2 separate regions of the Homo sapiens genome follow, and region 2 is linked to region 1. The links come from fine-mapping of genetic effects on gene expression. A gene starts in region 1. The other region holds a variant in brackets. All regions are shown on one strand. Distances are from middle to middle. Region 1 holds the start of SLITRK4 (SLIT and NTRK like family member 4). Region 2 has its middle 35 kb from the start of SPANXN3.

Region 1 (12,073 bases):
TATTTTTCGATATTATCTCACTCCAGTTAAGATCACTTTTGAAAGAAAGATTTAAGTTTATATTTCTAAGGAAAAGTAATATTGTTATAAAAGCATTGAAAAAAAGACCCTCAATGCTTTTGCAAAACAATAATGTTTTGCTAGCTAGGGACAACACTGTGGTTCCCGAGATAGAGTGGAACACGATAAAAACAGAAAGATTTTTATCAACTTACTATCTCTCTGATAAAGCTTCAGTTGGTGTTATGGAACTTTTACAGCCCATAAGAGTAATTCTCACACTAGACTGTTTAGCTATTAACTTCCTATTTTTTATTTTATGATCTTTATTATCTTTGAGTTGTCTGAGGGCTGTTGAGCTTGTGGCTGGGCCCTAATCTTTGACAGTGAGATTTCTCCAAGTTAGAGAATATATAGAAAAGAGACACTATTTTGTCAGCATCCCTGGCTTAGCAATATTCTAAACCACATAGGTAGTTCTAGTTAGCCATAGGGACAAGTACCCATTAGGGGCCAAAGTTACAAAGACCCTGCAAAACAACATACCCCTCTTTATTATTATTCTAGAAATAATAATTTCTGAGTGAAGTGTTATTTGAAAAATTAGCCAATGCCTTGCTACACAGACTGTAATACATTCACACCTGATGCCTGAGTTTCTGAAAAGGACACCAGGTTACCAGCTGTACTATAAAGAAGTCTGAGCAAAATGGAAGGTCAGGTTAATTGATATAACCTAATCAAATAATCAACTAGTCTCACATTTTCCAATTCATTTGGTATCCTATTTTATAACAATCCTTTTGTCTTAACTGGAATAAGTCTAGGGATGAACACTACTGCTTTGCTTGGTGTGGTGGTTAATAATGAGCGTCAACTTGATTGGATTAAAGGATGCAAAGTATCGATCCTGGATGTGTCTGTGAGGGTGTTGCCAAAGGAGATTAACATTTGAGTCAGGGGGCTGGGAAAGGCAGACCCACCCTTAATGTGGGTGGGCACCATCTAATCAGCTGCCAGGGAATGTAAAGTAGGCAGGAAAATGTAAAAAGGTGAGACTGGCTTAGCCTCCCAGCCTACATCTTCCTCCCATGCTGGATGCTTCCTGCCCTTGAACATCAGACTCCAAGTTCTTTAGCCTTGCGACTCAGACTGGATTCCTTGCTCCTCAGCTTGCAGACAGCCTAATGGGGGACCTTGCGATCATGTGAGTTAATACTACTTAATAAACTCCCATATATATATATATATATATATATATATATATATATATATATATGTATATATAAAATATATAAGTGTGTGTATATATATATGTGTGTGTGTGTGTGTGTGTGTGTGTGTGTGTATATATATTAGTTCTGTCCCTCTAGAGAACACTGACTAATACACATGGCTTCATTTGGTGATAGTGAAAGTGATTATCCCTAATAAGGAACATTTGAGACATCATCACAGATTCAGAATCAACTCAGGTATGAGAGTTGAAAGAGCAGAATGGATAGAACAAGGCTACTACTGGCAAAAGGTAAAATCAGTTGATTCAAGAGACCTTGTCATGCATAATTGATGTGAACTGTTTTTAATGTCATTTATTTGTTTATTCCTGTGCTGAGTATTCATACTTTAATACTTGAAAACATTTATGTCTCAAGTATTCATCTTTGGAAAATTTATTCTGCTTTCAAATCTATCCCTTTCTCTTTTTTTGAGACAGGGTCACTCTGTCGCTCAGGCTAGAGTGCAGTGGCTTGATGATGGCTCACTGCAGCCTTGACCTCCTAAGCTTGAGCGATCCTCCCACCTCAGCCTCCCTAGTACCTGGGACTACAGGTGCACCCCACGATGCCTGGCTATTTTTTTAAATTTATTTTTTAAAGAGATGGCTTTTCACCTTGCTGCCCAGACTGTTTGTCTTGGCATCCCAATGTGCTGAGAATACAGGCGTTAAGTCACCCTGCCCAGCTTTCAAGTCTATTCTGCTTTCAAAGTTAAAAATTCCCTAATCCCCCTGTGAAAACGAAAATGTGGTGTACTGGAAAAACCTCAAAGATCTGGGGTCAAATCTTGACCATCACTTACTCACCATGTGACCTCGGGCAAACTGTTTACCTTCCCTGAATTTTATTTTATTTTATTTTATTTTATTTTATTTTATTTTATTTTGAGAGAGTCTCAGTCTGTTGGCTGGGCTGCAGCGCAGTGGCATGGCCACAGCTGATGGCAGCCTTGACCTCCTGGGCTCAAGTGATCCTCCCGCCTCAGCCTTCCAAGCAGCTGGGGCTACAAGCATGTGCCACCATGCACCACTGATTTTTGTATTTGTTGTAGAGACGATTTTTCCCATGTTGCCCAGGCTGGTTTTGAAATCCTGGGCTCAAGTGATCTCCCCACCTCAGCCTCCCAAAGTGCTGGGATTACAGGAATGGGCCACCATGCCTGGTCACTTAACCTCATTTTTAAAATAAGTATGATAATCCCTTCCTTGTTCATAGAACTAAATGAAATAATATTTGTAGGCAGCACAGCAAAGAAGAGGCACTCAACAGACAGTAGCTACTATTGAATGGGTTAATTATGATCTGAAAACTTCCTTTCATGTTCTAAATTCCAGAAAATTTGTAAAAATGGGCTATTAGTATGTTTTTCAAATTATATAGATAGAAAAAAGGGTTCCATTGTTAAGTAAGTCTGTGAAATGCCACATGCCATATCCCTTTTCCCTTGGTAAATAAAAGCTCATTTAAACATAATTAATTGTGTTGAAAAATCCCAAAGTAAAAATAAAATGTTTAGCTTTACGGAACCAAGGGTCTTTTAAACTTATTTGATCATGGAAACATTTCTTCCCAGAAGATATATTAACATCCTAAGAACTTTCTTGTATTCCACTTAGAGAAATAGCAAGTGTGTGACCGGACACGGTGGCACACGCCTGTAATCCCAGAACTTTAGGAGGCCGAGATGGGCGGATCACCTGAGGTCAGAAGATTGAGAACAGCCTGGACAACATGGTGAAACTCCATCTCTACTAAAAATACAAAAATTAACCGGGCATGGTGGCACATGCCTGTAATCCCAGCCACTCAGGTGGCTGAGGGAGGAGAATTGCTTGAACCCAGGAGGCAGAGGTTGCAGTGAGCCGAGATCACACTAACGCACTCCAGCCTGGGTGACAGAGTGAGACTCTGTCTCAAAAATAAATAAATAAAAATGAAAGAGAAATAGCAAGTTTGTAACTGTTAAAATGCCAGAATATAAATAAATCTTCAATATTAAAATACACTGAATCATCTGTGATACCTGGATACGAAAATTAAGGCTGATTTGATTTTGAGCAGCAGCCTAAGACAAGGCAAGATAAATGAGGAATACAGTGAAAGTGAAAGACCGCTGACTAGGGCCAAGACTTGGCATTATAATCACTTTCGGTTGGTAGTGTTTTAATGACTTAATTCCAAACTGCCTTCGGAACGGAGGGTATACAGGATCTTGTTGAAATTCTTAGTGCAGTTGTTTTTTTCCCTGATGGAGGGAGACACAGTATATCAGTGTAGACCTACGATTCTGGTTGTACTCCTAAAAAGTCAAGATGAAATAAGGTAAAACATTTGGAGGAAGACCGTGAGAGTATTGCAAAACTCACAATATTTGCATGCTTACATTTTAGGAAGAACATCAATTTTGTTTTTCTTTCAATGGCCATAAATAGTGCTGGAGTTTTCTTAACACTTTTATTTATGTATATATTCACTTCCTTTGTTAAGCTAGCAATTCTGTGTCATTTCCTACTGTTCTATTGGGATGTCACCTGTAGTTCTAGGGGACGGAAAAGGGACTGTGGGACTAAAGGATTGGGTTAATTACTTTGAAAGCAAAATAAGCATAAAACATGGAAGTTGTTACTTCTGTTTTATTTTATGAGTGTCCACTTTATCTTTTTAAGTAGCAAAACATTTTATTTTAAAGCATTCATTTAAAAAAGTTGAATATTAATCACAGATAAGTTCTTAGGAATATTATGAATTGTAATTTATCGATGATCTAGCTACAGTGGCTTTCAGATTTGTCTCCATATCCATATGAAAAATAACATTTCACAGTTATTGCAGTTAAATATAGCCAAGTCTCAGAACAGTTTCTAAAGTTGAATAAAGATAGGCATTTAAATCATCTGATATTTACTGTCCAAATCTGGCCTTTTCAGTTATCACATTACTTAGAATTTTCAGGTAAACTTTTTTTGCTCATTCTATTGACTCTTGTTAACATTTGTAGTAAAAGACAAACATTTCACCTATCTGGATAAAATATATTCAGCTTCCTGAATTGTTAGCATTTAGAATAAATGCCAACTTGTTTTGATACCCATTACTACTTTCAAACTGCATTACACAATAAAATGCAAATGTGAGTTATTAATTAGCAGGATCTGTTTTGTCCAAGTGTGCAAGAGTAGAGGGATTTTTCAACATTCTGCAGCTGTTACCTATGAAGGAAACATCATTCACTTTGCTAAAAGGAGCTGCACAATTACATACGCTGTTATAGACAAATATTTTAGTGTTTCCTTAATGCTATTTCATAATGGATTTCACATTGAATAAGATAAATTTTACCAATGCTGCCCAATTTCTGTCTCTAGGTTGTTTGTAAAAGAGAGGATGATTACAGTTTTCAAGGCAATGTGGAGTGAAGGTAGAGAAAGAGTTCTTCATGAACGACACAATATTTAGCAAGGTCATAAAGAAATATGCCCATACACGCATATCTATTTAAGTATTCATTTACATATTGTACGTGCATCTCTGTATACATGTTGTGCCCGGTGAACATTTGTGTGAATATAACCTGACGGAAGTCCCATAAAATGACAAAAAATGAAAAACAATGAAACATGTATATGAATGACTACTATAGATGATACAGAAGGTAGACCATTATTCACAAATAATGTAATAAATCCTTTGCCCATCAGATGTTTCTACCTAGATTTGGGGCCTTTAAACATCAACCAATTATGGTAAATGTTTAACTGTAGGAGTTCAGGCAGACAGCCAAATTCTGGTTTCAAAGCTGTTGCTAGTTTTAGCTTAAAGATTTTTTTTTTCATTTTTAAGCAAGAACATTTCTGGATACCGGTTGTGCTCTATTGTGGCTAGAGCCGCTGGGATTTGAATAAGTAAATTGGGCAACACACTGGTCCTGAAGAAATGGGCCTGGCAGTATTACCTGAATGTGGCAAATAATAGGCTACCAAGAGTCCTAGGGAAATACTTCCCATTTATAACTTAGCTCTACTTACCTAAAGCTAGTTTATTCCCACAGACACGAAGAGAGAGAGAGTTGTTTTTCTTAGCCAAGCTCCTACAAAAAACAGCAAGGTTGGGGGATGGGAGCACATCCAATGTTTATGCCTTTTGTTTAGGAAAGCCAGGTATCTGAAATACATACATGATAGCCAACTCCTCTCTGCTCCCCTCCCCCAGGTTTATTTATTTTCTTAACAAGCTTATTAACGAAATTATCAATTTGCATGAAACTGGTTTGAACATTGGCCCTTCCTCAGAATATTTCTTATCTCTTGTGGAAGCACTAACAAAAAGGGTAGAAGAAGGGGCCTAGACAATCCACACGTTGGATTTGCAGCCACTGGATATTTCAGATTCAGCTGCTAAAGCCTCTTTGGTATACACAATGAGGGGCGACTGAAGTGACTTTTCTTAGTCCATTTCCTCTCCTTCTCCCCGTCTCCCGAAGGTACTCCGTGGGTCCCTTCCCTTTCTCTCTTCACAGTCCCTCCTGAGCAGTCCCAAAGCTTCAAACCTTGTTCTCCAACCCCCTTTCCCTAATGTCTCCCAACTACCACCCCCTTCCCCAGTCAAACTCCCCTCCCGGTCACCACCAAAGCCCGGAGAAGTGGAATGCACACAATGCCTCCCTTATAGGGCTTGAGCTGGGAACTGGGCATGCTCAGTAGCCAAAGTAGTTTTTTTTTTTTTTTTTCTTTTGGTCGCAAGTGCGGCATCTCTCCCAGTCCCACGCCTCTCTTTCCTCAACCCCTATCCCCTATCCCCTATCCCCACCCCCAGCTCCAAGATCATCCGGCTTAACCCATTCTGCACCAAAGGCCCACGGAGTTCTAAGGTGCGGATAATTAACCCGTCTCCTTCTAACCCGGCTAAATAGTCTCACTTTAGGCTAAAGCCTCACACTTTCGCCTTAAAGCCCCTGGCCCCTTACGCGCAGACAGGTAGGGGGAGTGCGAATACTACTGGATCCTAGGAAATTGGTTCCCAAGAAGGCTCCTTCCAGGATCGACCGCCACGGAGAAGTATTCCAGGAGCCCTCCGTTCTGCGGGGTGACAATTAGCCAAAGGTACCGTACCCGTGATACAAAATCCAAGTATGATTGTTGCATTTGAATGTCATTGTTGTTGACTCATTCCCCTCCATCCTGTAATTATTCAATTCCGCGTAGACTCGACGACCCTATCGATCTCCCTCGGCCCCCCTCCCCCAGGCTCTCCAGTGTTTCTTTGGCTTTTCCTGGCTTCTTGGTTGCTCTCTCAAAGGAATGCCCCGTGTGTGTGTGTGTGTGTGTGTGTGTGTGTGTGTGTGTGTGTGTGTGTTCCTTCGTTATTAGGGGACTGGAAGAGAAGAAAAGGGCTCGAGTGTGTGTGTATGTGGTGGGGGGGATGGAGGCGAGTGCGCCCTTGTTAGAGGACTGGGGTCTCCACGCCTGAGGAAAGGGGTCGCTCCTCCCTAGGGAATGTTTTAGGCAAAAAGAGGGGGCGGATGCCGGGAGGAAAGCGCGCTGTCTTTCTGGGTGTGTGGGTAGAAGAGGAATCAAATGGGCATGTCTGGATGGGGGACGGGGGTAGGAGCTCAGGAATGTGAGGGGGTCAAAGTGGTCGAGTGTCGGGAGGAAGGACTGCTTGTGTGCGGGGTGGGGGGGGGTGGTGGAGAGCGGGGGCGGGGATTCAGCGCGTGTATGTAAAGGTGCAGCCCGTGTGCTAGGCGCTGGGTGCGCGCGCGGTGTCTGCTCGGGTGCGCGCGCGCGCCGCTGCCCGCCTGCCCGCCGGCCCGCCTGCTCGCCTGCTGGGGCTGCTCCGTGGGTTTGACGGGCGAGCGGGCGCGGAGGAGCTCTGTCCGGAATCACATAGATACCATCGTGGAAACAGCAGCGCAGGTCACGGCGCCGCGGGCCCTGCACCAGACGCTGGGCTCTAGAGGTGGGTGAATTTTCAGCGGGGGCTGCACAAGCTGCACCGACACGCGTGCTGCCTCTTCCCCGCTCAGCTCAGTAGCGCGTGTGCGTGCGTGTGTGTGTGTGAGAGAGAGACAGAGAGAGAGAGAGAGATCTCGCGCGCGCGCACGCGAGCCGAGGGGGCAGGTAGCTTATTATTTTTAGTTTGGGTCCTGTTGGTTTGGGGCCGGTTGAGTGGCCAAAGTGGCCGAGGTGGCTAATCCTGCCCTCCACCTCCCACTTGCCTGCCTACGACGCGGTCTCATGCCGCTGAGGACCGGAAAGGATCCGGGTGTCCTTGGCATCGCTGCCCGCCCCCCCCCCCACCATACCCCAAGCGGCCAGGGCGGCGGGGCAAGTTGTACAGGTCTCGGGTGGCTCCGGCTGTCGGGCCGCTGGGCTGGGTTGGGCTTTATTTTTGCACCCCACTCGCAGCCACTTTCCGCAGACGTGGATCTGAGGCTCGGGGCAGTGGCCCGCGGGTTGGTCGGAGATTGCTAGCGCTCGGCAAGACTAGGAATACCAGAGGAAGAGCCGGTGGGTAACTCTAAAAGCTCTGCAAAGCCAGGCGAGCGCTGCCAGCGCGACTTTGCAAGGGGCCTAAATGTTGAGCTGATTTCTGGCATGGTGAGAGCAGGATTTTTGTAGCTGGCCAGGGAGGGAGAACAGGCAAGGGGGAGCCTGGGCCGCCGCTCGCAGCCACAAAACCACAGGGTCACTCTGCCCGTGGCAAGCAGGTCAGTGACTCCCTAGTGCCAACGTCTTCGAGGCGGCCTGATCTGGCCTCTCTTCCTCCTCACCCACCGCACGCCTGGGTCTAGAGAGGTCCACTGAAACTCCGGCAGCTGCCCCTTGTGGGACGGGAGCGCGCGGAGAAATGTGTGAGCGGCGGGACTGAAGGCCCCCGCGACATCCCGCGCGGTACCCCGCCTCCGCTACACGGACCGCCAGGCTGCTGCTTGGGCCCCTGACGCGGAGGGGGCTGAGCGGCCGGCTCCGGGAACAGGGATGCGGCAAAACATTGCGGTACGCGCTAGCAGCCCCTCCAGCCTCCTCGCCGCCCGCCCGAGGTAGCGCACCCGGGCGGCAATGGCCGGGTCTCTCCGCGAACCTCTTCCACCTCCATCCGAGCCTTAGGCGGGCCAGCGGGGTTTCCCGAGGGAGCTCTCGGGGAGCCACCTCGGCCCACCGCCCTGAAGCCCATCAGTGTTCTGCCCCCCTCAGGCCGCTTCTCTCCTCCCAGTCGCGGAGTGCCAGGCGCTGCACTCCGGTGGATGCAGGATTTGTTTTTGGTCGGGCTAGGTTTGTTCAGTCCTGGCTGGTCGTGAGAGCCAAGGGTCTTTCAGGGCACCGAGAGGAAGACGGACAGCTCCCAGCAGCCACAGAGAAGGCTCTTGGTACCCAGCTGGTACTTTGTGGGCTTTTTCTTTTCTTTTTTGCGTTTTTCCCTTGATGTTTAAATGTGCATGTTTCAGTGGTACCACCGGAGTGTGAGGCTTTATTCGCATACATTCAGTGCTCCCTTTACCCTCTTTGTAGCTCCCTTCTCCGAGTTCTTTTTCTTCCTTTCTCCACATTTCCATGGTCTCTTGCCCTTTCAGTACCTCTTTTCCTCTCTCCTTGGTGGACCAACTGGACTCTTTCTCTCTCTTGCCTGCCCCTCCAGCTGCTTGTGGCTTCCTCTGTTTCACAAGAGCTGCATTTGGGAACTTCCTGGCTCTTACTAGTGCCTTTTCCCCCCCTTGCTACTTAAAGTAGCAATCACCAGGAGGAGGGCAGCTCCTTATGCATTTTCAGATGTGTTGAGATTCCTGGTTCTTGTTTTTGTACTGAATTCGGATTATAAGGATTTTTTTTTTTCTGCGTTTGGTTTTTAGTTTGGTTGCTTTTGGGTTTCTTTGTTTTGAGGTGGGTGGGGTGGTGGTTTAGTAACAAGAAATGACTCAACTGAACCAAAATAGCTGTTGAAAACCACATTCATAACAAGGCAAAAAATATCAAGTGAAATTTTGATTTTACAATGAAAGTTGCTTTAGGTGATGTCATAGTTAAGAATTATGACTTCTTTTTGCAATGCCAATCATGCTCTCATGGTGAATAGGGGAAATGCACGTCTATATGGCAGCCAAATAGCATCTCAGCAGTGCTGGCTGTATTCTGAACCAAACTACTTAAAATGCAAATCCTCCTGGGTCATGGCTAATGGGTTGTCTACCTTGAGACATGTTCGGTTTTACCACTAGCTGATTCCTCGTGGGTAAAATAAACAAAGGAGTTTCTGTGCGACACTTCTTTCTTTGCATCATTTCCTTGTTGTGTGTTCCTGGGTATTTTATGTATTTAATTAATATTTGGAGATAACGATATTGAAATTGCACCCAGCTTCCCATTCACAATGGAAAAGACTAATATTGCTAAAATAGTATCAATAAAATGCACTCTGCTTGTGTTGTTTAATCTTTTCCAGGAAGCATCGTGTATGTTTGTGTATATATGCAGTATTTAAGGACCTGAAAACGATGAGTTATTTTGCTAAGCATTAAACTCTACCAACAAGTGATTCTTTATGCGTTTACAGTCAGGGACATGGGGTGGTAATATTAGGAAGGGCGGGTGGGTGTTTGGAACTGATGATTTTAGGACGAAAAATGTGCTGTACTGAACATATTTGGTGCTGTAGCAAAAGCTACTCAAAGATTGTGTTGTGTGAACTCCCCTTCCTCAGCAGTTGCAGTCTGTGGTCAAAGTGAAAGAGATAAAGCAGTTAAGCCGAGGATCAGTCGGACCTGGGTTCAAAATGGTAAATAAAGATGTGGGAGAGGGCCAGGGAGGCAAGAGAGCCAGTTCTCAAAGTGGAAAGACTGCCTGGAGATTAGCTAAGCAATGCAGGAGTAAGCAGGTTACTCTGCTGCTTTCAGAGGCTCCAAGACAAAAGGCTTTTTGCTCCCTCTTTGGGAGATGACTGACAGGAAATTAGAGACTGTTTATTTACCAGAAAATAAAATTTGGCCATCCCTTACTCAGTTGTTTTTCTAGAACCGCACAGCGTCGTCTGTGTCTTTGAAGGCAGCAGTGTACAGGAGTAAACCGATTGACAGCAATGAACTTACCTATGGGGCTACAGCACAAGCAAATCTCTTCCCAGGTCACTGTTCCTTAGTCTTTTAACAGTCCCTGCTACAGCAGCCCAATCCTCCCATTTCCATCCTCCAGTGAACTCTGGGCTCTAATGTTTTTGTTTTTGTTTTTTTAATTCAGCCTCTCTATCTAGCTGAAGCTTAGAGAATAGATATCCACTAATCAAAATGGCTTTGTGGTACAAACTCGATGGCATACTTGATGGTCTCGGTCATTTGAAGTGCAAGTAGGAAGCTTAAGGCCTGTGTTCAAGGGCAGAGTTTGACGGTCCACGTGGAAAAAATATTTTCAGATTGCAAGATTTAAGCATGATTGATAATATATTTTCCTACTGTTAGTTGTGTGTTCTGCACATGTGAATTTGGTATAAACCACAGGTATGGAAAATAAAATGTATGGCAGTTTTAGTGGTTATTATTGTTCGACTGAGTGAGACTATTTGGAGGTTTGATTGCCTTACAAATACAACTCTGGTAATTATAGCCATGTGTTCACTATGGTATGATTTACATACAAGTAATTTTTCAAGTAATGACCATTGAAAAAATGTTTTCTTTTTATTTTTTAGATTATTTCTCTTTATTCAGAAGCATACAGTTGTTTGCTGATTGCAAGAAGATGTTTCTGTGGCTGTTTCTGATTTTGTCAGCCCTGATTTCTTCGACAAATGCAGATTCTGACATATCGGTGGAAATTTGCAATGTGTGTTCCTGCGTGTCAGTTGAGAATGTGCTCTATGTCAACTGTGAGAAGGTTTCAGTCTACAGACCAAATCAGCTGAAACCACCTTGGTCTAATTTTTATCACCTCAATTTCCAAAATAATTTTTTAAATATTCTGTATCCAAATACATTCTTGAATTTTTCACATGCAGTCTCCCTGCATCTGGGGAATAATAAACTGCAGAACATTGAGGGAGGAGCCTTTCTTGGGCTCAGTGCATTAAAGCAGTTGCACTTGAACAACAATGAATTAAAGATTCTCCGAGCTGACACTTTCCTTGGCATAGAGAACTTGGAGTATCTCCAGGCTGACTACAATTTAATCAAGTATATTGAACGAGGAGCCTTCAATAAGCTCCACAAACTGAAAGTTCTCATTCTTAATGACAATCTGATTTCATTCCTTCCTGATAATATTTTCCGATTCGCATCTTTGACCCATCTGGATATACGAGGGAACAGAATCCAGAAGCTCCCTTATATCGGGGTTCTGGAACACATTGGCCGTGTCGTTGAATTGCAACTGGAAGATAACCCTTGGAACTGTAGCTGTGATTTATTGCCCTTAAAAGCTTGGCTGGAGAACATGCCATATAACATTTACATAGGAGAAGCTATCTGTGAAACTCCCAGTGACTTATATGGAAGGCTTTTAAAAGAAACCAACAAACAAGAGCTATGTCCCATGGGCACCGGCAGTGATTTTGACGTGCGCATCCTGCCTCCATCTCAGCTGGAAAATGGCTACACCACTCCCAATGGTCACACTACCCAAACATCTTTACACAGATTAGTAACTAAACCACCAAAAACAACAAATCCTTCCAAGATCTCTGGAATCGTTGCAGGCAAAGCCCTCTCCAACCGCAATCTCAGTCAGATTGTGTCTTACCAAACAAGGGTGCCTCCTCTAACACCTTGCCCGGCACCTTGCTTCTGCAAAACACACCCTTCAGATTTGGGA
Region 2 (12,073 bases), 150 kb after region 1:
TCTTTCATTTTTTACAGCTGCTCTATAAATGAATATTCTACATGCTGATGAAAAAATTACTTCCCCTTTATATTTATTATGAGTTTCAAAATCACTGAACCAAAGTAAGACCAAACAAAAAGTTGGAATATTCCTCTTAATGCTTTCTCAGTAGTTAGAAAGATAAACAGAAAAAAGAGTGCCTAAAATGGATTTACTGCATTATAGGTTTTCCAATCCAGATGGCCTAGATACAATACTTGCCTATTTGAACAGGATATACGTGTTTATCGCAAGTACCACATTGAAGATGTTTTTAAAGTATGACTCAATATCATACATTCTTCATTATTTCTGTAAAATTTAGCTTCTGAAGGGTAAGACTATATGTGTTGTTTAATCTGACTGTATAGACTGTAAAAAACAATGCAAAATTATTTATACCTTCCTTACCTATAAAACTAAAACTAACATCTGTTTAATTTGTTGTAACTATTTTATTTCACATGCCTGGTGTCATCAATTCTTTTTTCTACCACAAGTTTAACTTCTTTTTTTTTTCTACATTTTAATTATTAACTGTCTTATTTTCAGTATGTTGACTCTTGAAAGATAAATTCAATCCATTTAGGATTAAGTGGCAGTATCAGTCTTGATAACTGTAGTTGCTTTGATGTATTTCAGCAATGGTGTGAAGTGTTAATACTAGCATTTATTGGGAACCTACTGTAGTCTAGGCACCATTCTAAGCACTTCATATTATCTCATTTAATCTTCACTACAACCTTATGAAGTCTGTCATATCACTCTTTCCATTTCACAGGTAAGAAAGGTGAAGTTGAGAAAAGGGAAGAAGCTTGTCCTGGTGAAGCTGTTTGAACCCGGGTGGAATCCAGAGCTTTTACTTTTTTACCGCCATATTGATATGGTTTGGATATTTGTCCCCACCCAAATCTCATGTTGACATGTAATCCCTAGTGGTGGAAGTGGGTCCTGGTGGTAGGTGTTTGGGTCATGAGGGCAGATTCCCTCATGGCTTGGTGCTGTTCTTGCAATAATGAATGAGTTCTCTTGAGATCTGGTCATTTGAAAGTGTGTGGTAACTCCCATTCCCCTCTTGCTTCCGCTCTGCTGCATGAGATGCCTGATCCCACTTTGTCTTCCTCCAAGTATAAATGTGAGCCAATTAAACTTCTTTTTAAAATTACCCAGTTTCAGGTATTTCTTTATAGTAATGCAAGATTGGTCTAGTACAAATACTATAGATGGAATAAGGAATATACTTTGGTTTTGAACTTATATAATGGCCACAAAGTTTCTCTTTATTTTGTGAGGAGCTTTTGATGGGGTGAAATGGCAGTGCCATATCATTTTGAAATTTATCTTAATTATATGAGACATGACTATATCATAGCTTTTCTCTTCTTTGGGTATTTTTGTTACTCTTCTGACATAGTTTCAAGGAAACTGAATTAATTGAAAAAATATCTGATGGCTTTTATATAAAGTGCATGCTTTTTTTCAGTAGCAAGGTAAGCAAGTACATTGTCTTTCCAAAATAATAATGACATGAAAATTTGTAATTGTACGTCTTATCAAACTTCCAGAGCAGCTGACATGCGTACTAATGATACACTGAGTTTTTTAGGATAACCAAGGCTTATAATCTGGTTGGCACTGCTAAAGCAATGAAATTGCTATGCAAGTTGTATCACATCGTTGGCAAAACTTGTCTTAGAATTTATTCCAGAGGCATAAGAACTTACAAGGAGATGTGAAGGGAGTCACAGGAAACAGAGGCCTGGGAATTTTTGAAGGGCAAAGGGATTGTGAATGAATGGCTGAGCAGAGGTTAGGTTTTTTGCAGACCAGACTTTGGGGAGAGAAAAAGCTGAGGGAAATGGATACCTTAGCATGGAGACTGTATTACTCCATTTTTCAGGGGATTAAAGTAGGGCTGAGATGTGTGCAGAGATACTAAGAGGCAAAGAAATAATGTTCTGGAATGGTCCAGTATGCTCCAATACGGATGAAGTTATCTTATGCCTGGTGAGTGAAGCTGTGTAGACGTTAACCAGTGGTCTGTAGAAGGGAATCGAAACCATGCGTCAGCGTGCAGCCACAACGTGTGGAGAGTTTGGCTAGGGGACGGACAAAGGAGCCAGGTCTTTCAAGCTTATTCAGCATCTCTAAAGCCCAGCAGTGGCAATGAAGCTTTAGAGATAGGACGCAGAAATGTGATTAGAAAAATAAAAAGCTGATAAATTCAAATTCCTTGCAGGATTGGGTTCCACTTCATTATTTCATTGTCCCAGCAACTGTTAATGAGAATCAATGGGAATAAGTGTATCTACATTCCCATTACCCCATCAGTTGTTTCCATTTTTTCCGTGTCCATTACTGCTGTTGACAATATGTGTGCATATTTTACATTGTTAAAACATTTCCCAGATACATCTTTGCATAGTGTTTTTATCATCGAACATTGCAACACAATTATTTTTTCATGCTGCTAAAGTCTCCAAGATAATATTTTTAATTATTTTATCATAATTCCATGAACGGATCAATTGCTTAACTATTTCTCTATTAGTGAGCAAAGATAATCATTTCCTGTTATACATAAGCCAATTCTAAATAAATTTGGTTTTCAGAAGGTGTGTGTGCCCAGAGCAGAGTGGCAGAAAAGCAATGTGGTCAGTAAAATTTCACTTAATAAAAGATATTTCATGGTGCTTGCAAAAACTGCAGATTATATTTTTAAAGATTGTACCATAACTTTACACTGTCTGAATGTACTTTTGACATCATTTTTGAATATGATCATTACGTTTTAAATGCAGTTGGTTGTGTATTGCTTTCACAAGAAGACATGGCTTGGAGTAATTTTGAGGCTTCATTTAGATATTCTCAGAAAAGTTTGGGACTTTACTATTATATTATAAAACTAGATGAAAATTTTACATCTTCCACAACGCATTGAGGTTGTGGTTGATGGAAAGGCCTATGACTAAGACTCAACTCTGCAAGCTTACAGAAATTGGCAAATTCAAATCAAGGCCTCCACATCTTAGGTACTTAAAAATGATTAGGAAACTTAGGAAAATCAGGCCTTATGATTGTTTTAAGTGTTTTCCATTTTAAAGCAGATGTCTTGAATTCGCTAGAGTAATTTAGGCCATTTAAAGTATTTACATAGCTGACAAAGTGAGAGCATGACTGCCTGATGTGCAAACAGCTAGTCAGTTCAGTTACAAATCAAGGTTTTTTCAGTCTTCACTGTACTGACTTGATATTCCAGTATTAGTTGGTAAGAAACTGTAATAAATTTATAGATATAAGCAATAAGTTTGAATATTTATTGAGTGTAAAATATATGCTAAGCATGAATCTAAGCATTTTATACCCATTTAGCTTATTTAATTTTAACAACAGTCACCATTTTCTACTATATAGATTAAGCATAGAGATGATGATTTTGATGATATGTATTTTCATGATGAAGATTTTATCATTAGCTGTTATTATTGAGGGCTTATTTTTTCCAGACATTATTTTTGTGCAATCCTTGTAACAAATTCATGAGATAGATAAGTGTTCTTATTTTAGAGATGAAGTATCTGAGGTTAAGTGACTTTTCCAATTCACACAGGTAAGAAGTGAGGAAGTTGGGATTCACTCTAATGTGAACATAGCTGGAGGTCTGTGTACACCAGAGCTCATGCTGCCTTAACCAAGATGATCCCTACTGTTTGAAAGACCACACAAACTTGAAGCTTTGATGTGAACATATGTTTTCTATTTTCATACATTCTTTTAATAATTATGATATTGACACTGCAATTAGTCAACCACAAACATTCTATTTGTACTGAGTCCAGAGATTTGCATGGAGAAACAAAATTAACCTCTTGTATAGGCTGAATGAATTATCTGTCAAATAGAAAATATTAGATCCTGAAGTTAAAAGGTCAAGATACATCTCTGAAGATTTATTACAATGATGAAGACTGAAGTTTTATACTAAGTGGGTTGGAACCATCATTTATTCTATTTCTAGACTGTATTTAGGATCCTAGATTGCCAGAGATAGAAAGATATTAGAGGACAACCAGTTCTAGTTTCTTATTTTACAAATAAAAAATCAAACAAACATGCAAACCAACTATGACTTTATGTTTTGTTTAAATATTCTTCTAAAATTTTTTAAAGAATTTTCTAATTCTTATTTAAATAAATAAGTTTAAGATTGAGCCAATTTAGGCAAAATATATTATTTATATGCATAAAATTAGACTCTGAGGGACTACTTTTGATTCTACAAAGATAGAATAGCCTTACTATTCTATAACTAAAAAAGTTTACATATAACACAACAAATAAGCATAGGAAGACTCTGAGAAGTGAAAAGAAGATGCCAGACTTCATAGGGACTTTAGGACTTGGGGAACAACATGATGATGAGTTCCCAGGGTTTCCTTATTATCTCCCATACACCCTGGTGAGAGTGCTGCAGTGACCTCCAACTCAGTACTGACAATAGACATGGTCTGTTCTGTCAAGCAGTTTTATTTATAATTGCCAAAATCTTTCAAGCAACCAAGATATCCTTCTGTGGGTTAATGGATAAATAAACTCTGGCACACTCCAACAATGAATTATTATTAAGTGCTAAAAGGAAGTGAACTGTCAAGCCGTCTAAAGATCTGGAGGAACCTTAAATGTATATTGCTAAATGAAAGAAGCCAATCTGAAAAGGATATATTTATTTTACAATTCTGATTCTATATCATTTTGTAAAAGAAAAAACTATGTAAACAGTAATAAATATCAGTAGTTGCCAGGGGTTAGAGGGAGGAAGAAATAAATAGGCAGTGCATAGATAATGTCTAGGGCAGTGAAACTCCTCTGTATGATTTTATAACTGTGGAGACATTTCATACATATGTCTAAGTCCATAGAATGTGCAACACTAAGAGTGAACCCTAATGTAAACTATGGACTTTTGTGATTGTAATAGTATCAATGTAGTTTAATAAATTTTAACAAATGTTTTTGTAGTGTGCTCAAAAGCACACTACAAAAGCTTCATAATGCAATCACGAGTATAAATAGCAGAGTAGACCAACTGAAGGAAAGAACCTCAGACAATGAATACTGGCTTTCTGAAATAAGACACTCAGACAAGAATAGAGAAAAAAAATAAAAAGGAATGAGCAAAACCTCTGAGAAATATGGGATTATGTAAAGATAACAAATCTGTGACTCATTAGTGTCCCTGAAAGAGATAGGGAGAATGGAACCAACTTGGAAAGGATATTTTAGGATGTCATTCATGAGAACATTCCCAACCTAGATAGAGAGGCCAACATTTAAACTCGGGAAATGCAGAGAACCCCAGTAAGATACTTCACAAGAATGTCATCCTCAAGACACATCATCGTCAGATTTTCCAAGGCTGAACTGAAAGAATAAATGTTAAAGGCAGCTAGAGAGAAAGGCAGGTCACCTACAAAGGGAAGCCATTAGACTAACAGCAAACTTCTGAGCATAAACCTTACAAGCCAGAAGAGACTGGGGACCAATATTCAATATTCCTAAAAAAATTCCAACCCAGAATTTCATATTTGGCCAAACTAAGCTTAATAAGTGAAGGAGAAGTAGGATTTTTTTCAGACCAGCAAATGCTAAAGAAATTCATTACCACCAGACATACCTTACAAGAGCACCTAAAGGAAGCACTAAATATGGAAAGAAAGGCCATTACTAGCCACTGCAAAAACACGCTGAAGTACACAGACCAGTGACAATAAAAAGCAACCACATAAACAAGCCTGCAAAATAACCAGCTAACAGATGACAGAATCAAATCCACACATGTTAATACTAACCTTAAATGTAAATGAGCTAAACGTCACAATTAAAAGACACAGAGTGGCAAGCTGCATAAAGAACCAAGACACATTGGCATGCTTTCTTCGAGAGACCCATCTCACATGCAATGACACACATAGGCTCAAATTAAAGGGATGGACAAAAATCTACCAAGCAAATGGAAAACAGAAAATAGCGAGGGTCACAAGCCTAGTTCCAGACAAAACAGGCTTTAACTGAGCAAAGATCAAAAAGGACAAAAAAGGCATTACATTATGGTAAAGGGTTCAATTCAACAAGACCAACCTGTTCTAAATATACATGTACCCAACAGAGGAGCACCCAGATTTATAAATCAAGTTCTTGGGGATCTTCAAAGAAACTTAGACTCCCACACAATAATAGTGGGAGCGTTAAACTCCTCACCAACAACATCAGACAGATCACTGAGACAGAATATTAATTAAGATATTCAGGATCTCAACTCAGCACTGGATCACATGGATCTGGCAGACATCAACAAAATTCTCCACC[C/G]CAAAACAACAGGATATACGTTCTTCTCATTGCCACATGGTACACACTCTAAAATTGATTACATAATCAGAAATAAAATACTCCTCAGTAAATGCAAAGGAACTGAGATAATAACAAACAGTATCCCAGACCACAGCACAATCAAATTACAAATAAAGACTAAGAAATTCACTCAAAACCACACAGTTATATTGAAGTTGAATAGTGTGCTGCAGAATGACTTTTGTGTAAATAATAAAATTAAGGCAGAAATTAAGAAGTTATTTGAAACTAATGAGAATAAAGATACAACATACCAGAATCTCTGGGACACAGCTAAGACATGTTAGGAAGGAAAATTATAGCACTAAATGCCCACATAAAACTTAGAAAGATCTCAATTTGACACCCTAAAATCACAGCCAGAGGAACTAGAGAACTAAGAACAAACCAACTATAAAGCTAGCAGAGGACAAGAAATAAAGAAAATCAGATCTGAACTGAAGGGAACTGTGATGGTTAATAGTGAGTAACAACTTGATTGGATTGAAGGATATAAAGTATTGATCCTGGGTGTGTCTGTGAGGGTGTTGCCAAAAGAGATTTAGCATTTGAGTCAGTGGGCTGGGGAAGGCAGATCCACCCTTAATCTGGTGGGTACAATCTAATCAGCTGCCAGCAAATATAAAGCAGTCAGAAAAACCTGAAAAGGAGAGGCGGGCCTAGCCTCCCAGCCTACATCTTTCTCAAGTGCTGGATGCTTCTTGCCCTAGAACATCAGGCTCCAAGTTCTTCAGTTTTGGGACTCGGGCTGGCTCTTTTTGCTCCTCAGCTTGCAAACAACCTATTGTCGGACCTTGTGATTGTGTAAGTTAATACTTAATAATACCTTTTTATACATATATATCTATCCTATTAGTTCTGTCCCTGTAGAGAAACTGACTAATACGGGCATTGAGACATACACACAAAAAAACCATCGAAAAGATCAATGAATCTAGGAACTGCTTTTTGGAAACAATTAATAAAATAGATAGATTGATAGCTAGACTAAGAAAGAAAAAAGTAGAGAAGATCCAAATAATCACAATCAGAAACAACAAGGGGGATATTACTACTGAACCCACAGAAATACAAATATCCATCAGAGGATATTATGAACACCTCTATGCACATAAACCAGAAAATCTAGAAGAAATGAATAAATTCCTGGACACATATACACTCCCAAGACTGAACCAGGAAGAAATCCACCAAAATGTCCATCAATGAGAGATTAAATAAAGAAAATGTGGTGCATATACACCACAGAATACTATGCAGCCCTAAAAACTAGCAAAATTATATCCTTTGAAGGAACATGGATGGAGCTGGAGGCCATTATCCTTAGCAAACTAATGCCGGAACACAAAACCAAATACTGCATGTTCTCACTTATAAGTGGGAACAAAATAATGAGAGCACGTAGACACATAGAGCAGAGCAATAGAGTGGCCTATCAGAGGGTGGAGGTTGGGATGATGGAGACGACCAGAAAAAATAACTAATGGATACTAGGCTTAATGGGTGGGTGAGGAAATAATCTGTATGACAAACCCCCATGAAACGTTTACCTATATAACACTATGTAACAAACCTACATATTACTCCTGAACTTCAAATAAAAGTTAAAGGAGAAAAAGTAATGACAATACCAACTGCTGGCAAGAATCCAGAGTAACAGAACCACTTAGTTATAACCGAATAAAATATTAAAAGGCAAAGAAGCCACTCTACAAAGCAGTTTGGCACTTAAAAAAAAAGAAACAATAAAAAGTAACAACAAAAGCTATACATACAACCGTGCATTTGTCCCAGAGAAACGGAAACATATGTTCACACAGATTTCAGAATATTACTCAGCAATAAAATAGAATAAAACATTGACACATAAAACAACCTGCATAGACTCCGAAATATTATCCTGAGTGGAAAAGAATCCCAAATGTTACATAGTATATAATTTTATTTATGAAATGTTCTTGAAATATCAAAATTATAGAAAATATGAGTTTCATGGTTATTGGGGTTACTGAGGGAATGGTAGCAGTAGACAGGTGTGTGTGTGGCTATGAAAGGGCAATATGAGGTTTTATTGTGATGAACTAATCTGTATCTTGACTGTACCAACATCAGTATCCTGGAGGTGATATTGTAGCATAGTTTTAAAGAAGCTACCACTGGGGGAAAGTAGGTAAAGAGTACAGGGAAATTTGTCTGTATTATATACTACAAGTGCATGTGAATTAAATGTTATTTAAAAATGAAAAGTCAGCGATATAGTTTAGCTATTTGTCCCTGCCCAAATCTCATGTTGAACTGCAATTCTCAATGCCTGGTTGGAGGTGTATGGATCAAGGGGATGGATCATTTACAGCTTGGTGCTATCTTTGTGATAGTTCTCATGAGATCTGATCATTTAAAAGTGTGTGGCACCTCCCTCTCACTCTCTCTTGCTTTCACTATGTGATTTGTCCTGCTTTCACTATGTCATTTGCTTGCTTCCCCTTCACCTTCTGTATTGAGTAAAAGGTCCCTGAGGCCTCCCCAGAAGCTAAATTATGTTAGCACCATCCTTGTACAGCCTGCAGAACTATCAGCCAATTAAACCTTTTTTCTCATAAATTAACTAATTTTAGGTATTTCTGTATAGCAATGTAAGAATAACTTAACACAGTTAATTTAAAAATACTGTAGACATTAGCATTATTAAAAATTACCAAAAGGTAGAAGCAACTCCAATTCATATCAACTGATGAACAGATAAATGAAATGTGGTATATGTATACAATGAAACATTATTCAGGCATAAAAGGAATGAAGTACTGATATATTATACAGTATGAATGAATCTTGAAAAAATTAAGTGAAATAAACTAGTCACAAAAAACAAATACTATATGATTACATTTATATATGTAAAATATTACATATATGTAATATTATATATAATATTTTACATCTATATGTTACTGTCCAAAATAGGCAAATACATAAAGACAGAAGGCAGGTTAGTGGTTGCCAGGGCCAGGGGAGAATGGGGAGTGATTAAGTGATACATTAGTTTTGGAATTTCCTTTGTAGTGATGAAAAGGTACTGTAACTAGGTGGTGTTGATGGTTGCACAACGTTGTGAATATACTCAATACCACTTAGATGTACACTTTAAAATATTTAATTTGGTAAATTTCATGTGTATTTCAAAACACAATAAAAAGAAAAAATGAAATAGAAAATGAGACATCAATATATTAAAATATTCATTTCCGGGTAAGTGGGTTATAAATGATTTATTTTCTATTTTATACACTTGTACTTTCTGAATATTTTAAATGAGTATATATTAATGTTATCATCATAAAAACTTAAAGAAAAATGGCAATGCATATGCACTAATACTAAACCTAGCATTTAAGGAAAGTTGAAGTCAGTGAAGTGAAAAGAAGAAAAGCTATTTAAAACAGACTTTTTATTATGGAAAATGACAAACACAAACAAAACATTGACTAGTGTAATTAGCTTCTATTTACCCGTCGCTCAGCTTAAATATTCATCAACTCATGAGCTATATGATTTGTTTTCATCCCCACCCACTGAGAAAGCATTAATAAGTGTTGTTGTGCTGTGGGTGGAGAGAACATGGACCTAAAGGTAGACATATTTGTATTTTAATCTCAATTCTGTCATTTATTATCTGACTTGGCAGTCCAGACACCTAGAATAAATGCTAGTTCTCTTTACTGATCTGTGAGTTTCTGACTGGTTGCATAAACTACTTCCTCCTCTGTCAAAAATGATAATGTTTGTGTGTCATAAGTGAAATGACACGGGGAAAAAGAAACAAAAATATATATGTATTAGTCTCTTCTCACACTGCTAATAAAGACATACTCGAGATTGGGTAATTTATAAAGGAAAGAGGTTTAATTGAATCACAGATTCACATGGCTGGGGAGGCCTCGCAATCATGGTAGAAGACAAATGAAGAGCAAAGTCATGTCTCATATGGCAGCAGAGAAGAGAGTTTGTGTAGGGGAACTCCCTTTTATAAAACCATCAGATCTCATGAGACTTACTATCATGAGAAGAGTACAGGAAAGACCTGTCCCCATGATTCAATTACCTCCCACTGGGTCTCTCCTATGATGTGTGGGAATTATGGGAGCTACAGTTCAAGATGAGATTTAACTGAAGACAGTGCCAAACCATATCATTCTGTCCCTAGCCCTTCCTAAATTTTACGTCTTCAGATTTCAAAACCAGTCATGACTTCCCAGCAGCCCTCCAAAGTCTTAACCCATTTCAGCATTAACTCAGAAGTCCACAGTCCAAAGTCTCATCTGAGACAAGGCAAGTCCCTTTCACCTATGAGCCTGTAAAATGAAAAGCAAGTTAGTTCCTTCCAAGATACAAGGGGGTACAGGCGTTTGGCAAATTCACCCATTCCAAATGGGAAAAATTGGCCAAAAAAAGTGGCTGCAGGCCCCATTAAAGTCTGAAATCTAACAGGGCAATGAAATCTTAAAGCTCCAAAATGATCTCCTTTGACTCCGTGTCTCACATCCAGGTCACATCAATGCAAGAGGTGGGGTCACATGGCCTTGAGCAACTCTGTCCCTGTGGCTTTCATGGTACAGCCCCCCTCCTGGCTGCTTTCATGGGCTGATGCTGAGTGTCTGTGTCTTTTCCAGGAACATGGTGCAAGCTCTTGGTGGATCTACCATTCTGGGGTCTGGAGGACAGTGGCCCTCTTCTCACAGCTCCACTAGGTAGTGCCCCAGTGGGAACTCTGTGGGGGCTCTGACCCCACATTTCCCTTCTGCACTGCCCTAGCAGAGGTTCTCCATGAGGGCTGTGCCCCTGCAGCACACATCTGCCTGGACAGCCAGGTGTTTCCATATATCCTCTGAAATCTAGGCAGATGTTCCCAAACCTCAATTCTTGACTTCTGTGCAACCACAGGCTCACCACCACACGGAAGCTGCCAATGCTTGAAGCTTGCACCCTCTGAAGCCACGACCCAAGCTGTACCTTGGCCACTTTTAGCCACAGCTGCCGTGGCTGGGATGCAGGGCACAAAGTCCCTAGGTTGCATACAGCAGGGAGGCGTCTTGGGCTCAGCCCAGGAAAGCATTTTTTTTTCTTCCTAGGCCTTCAGGTCTGTGATAGGAGGCACTGCCACAAAGGTCTCTGACATGCCCTGGAGACATCTTTCCCATTGTCTTGGTGATTAACATGAGGTTCCTTATTACTATTGCAAATTTCTGCAGCAGGCTTAAATTTCTCCCCAGAAAATGAGGTTTTCTTTTCTAATGCATAGCCAGGCTACAAATTTTTTGAACTTTTATGTTCTGCTCCCTCTTGAATGTTTTGCCAGTCAGAAATTCCTTCTGCCGGATACCCTAAATTATTTCTCTCAAGTTCAAAGTTCCACAGATTTCTAGGGCTGTGGCAAAATGCCTCCAGTGATTTTGCATAGCAAGAGTGACCTTATTCTAGTTCTCAACAAGTTCCTCATCTCTATCTGAGACCACCTCAGCCTGGACTTTATTGTCCATATCACTATCAGCATTTTGGCCAAAGTCATTCAACAAGTCTCTAGGAAGCCGCAAACTTTTCCACATTTTCTTGTCTTTTTCTGAGTCCTCCAAACTGTTCCAACCTCTCT

The links. PIP is the estimated chance that this variant, and not a neighbour inherited with it, causes the effect.
Region 2: its variant is fine-mapped to the expression of SLITRK4 in whole blood (TOPMed, PIP above 0.99). The same link has a PIP of 0.9 or more in lung.

What each region holds. Positions count from the first base shown.
Region 1 is chrX:143,630,041-143,642,113 of GRCh38, reverse strand. It overlaps SLITRK4 (SLIT and NTRK like family member 4), which reads left to right and starts at 6,013. Exons shown (of 2, transcript NM_001184749.3): 1 at 6,013-6,379; 2 at 10,956-12,073. The coding sequence starts at 11,006.
Region 2 is chrX:143,476,327-143,488,399 of GRCh38, reverse strand. No RefSeq gene overlaps it. Among named protein-coding and RNA genes, the nearest start is that of SPANXN3, 35 kb to the left of the region's middle. The variant C/G (reference allele first, on the strand shown) is at 6,388.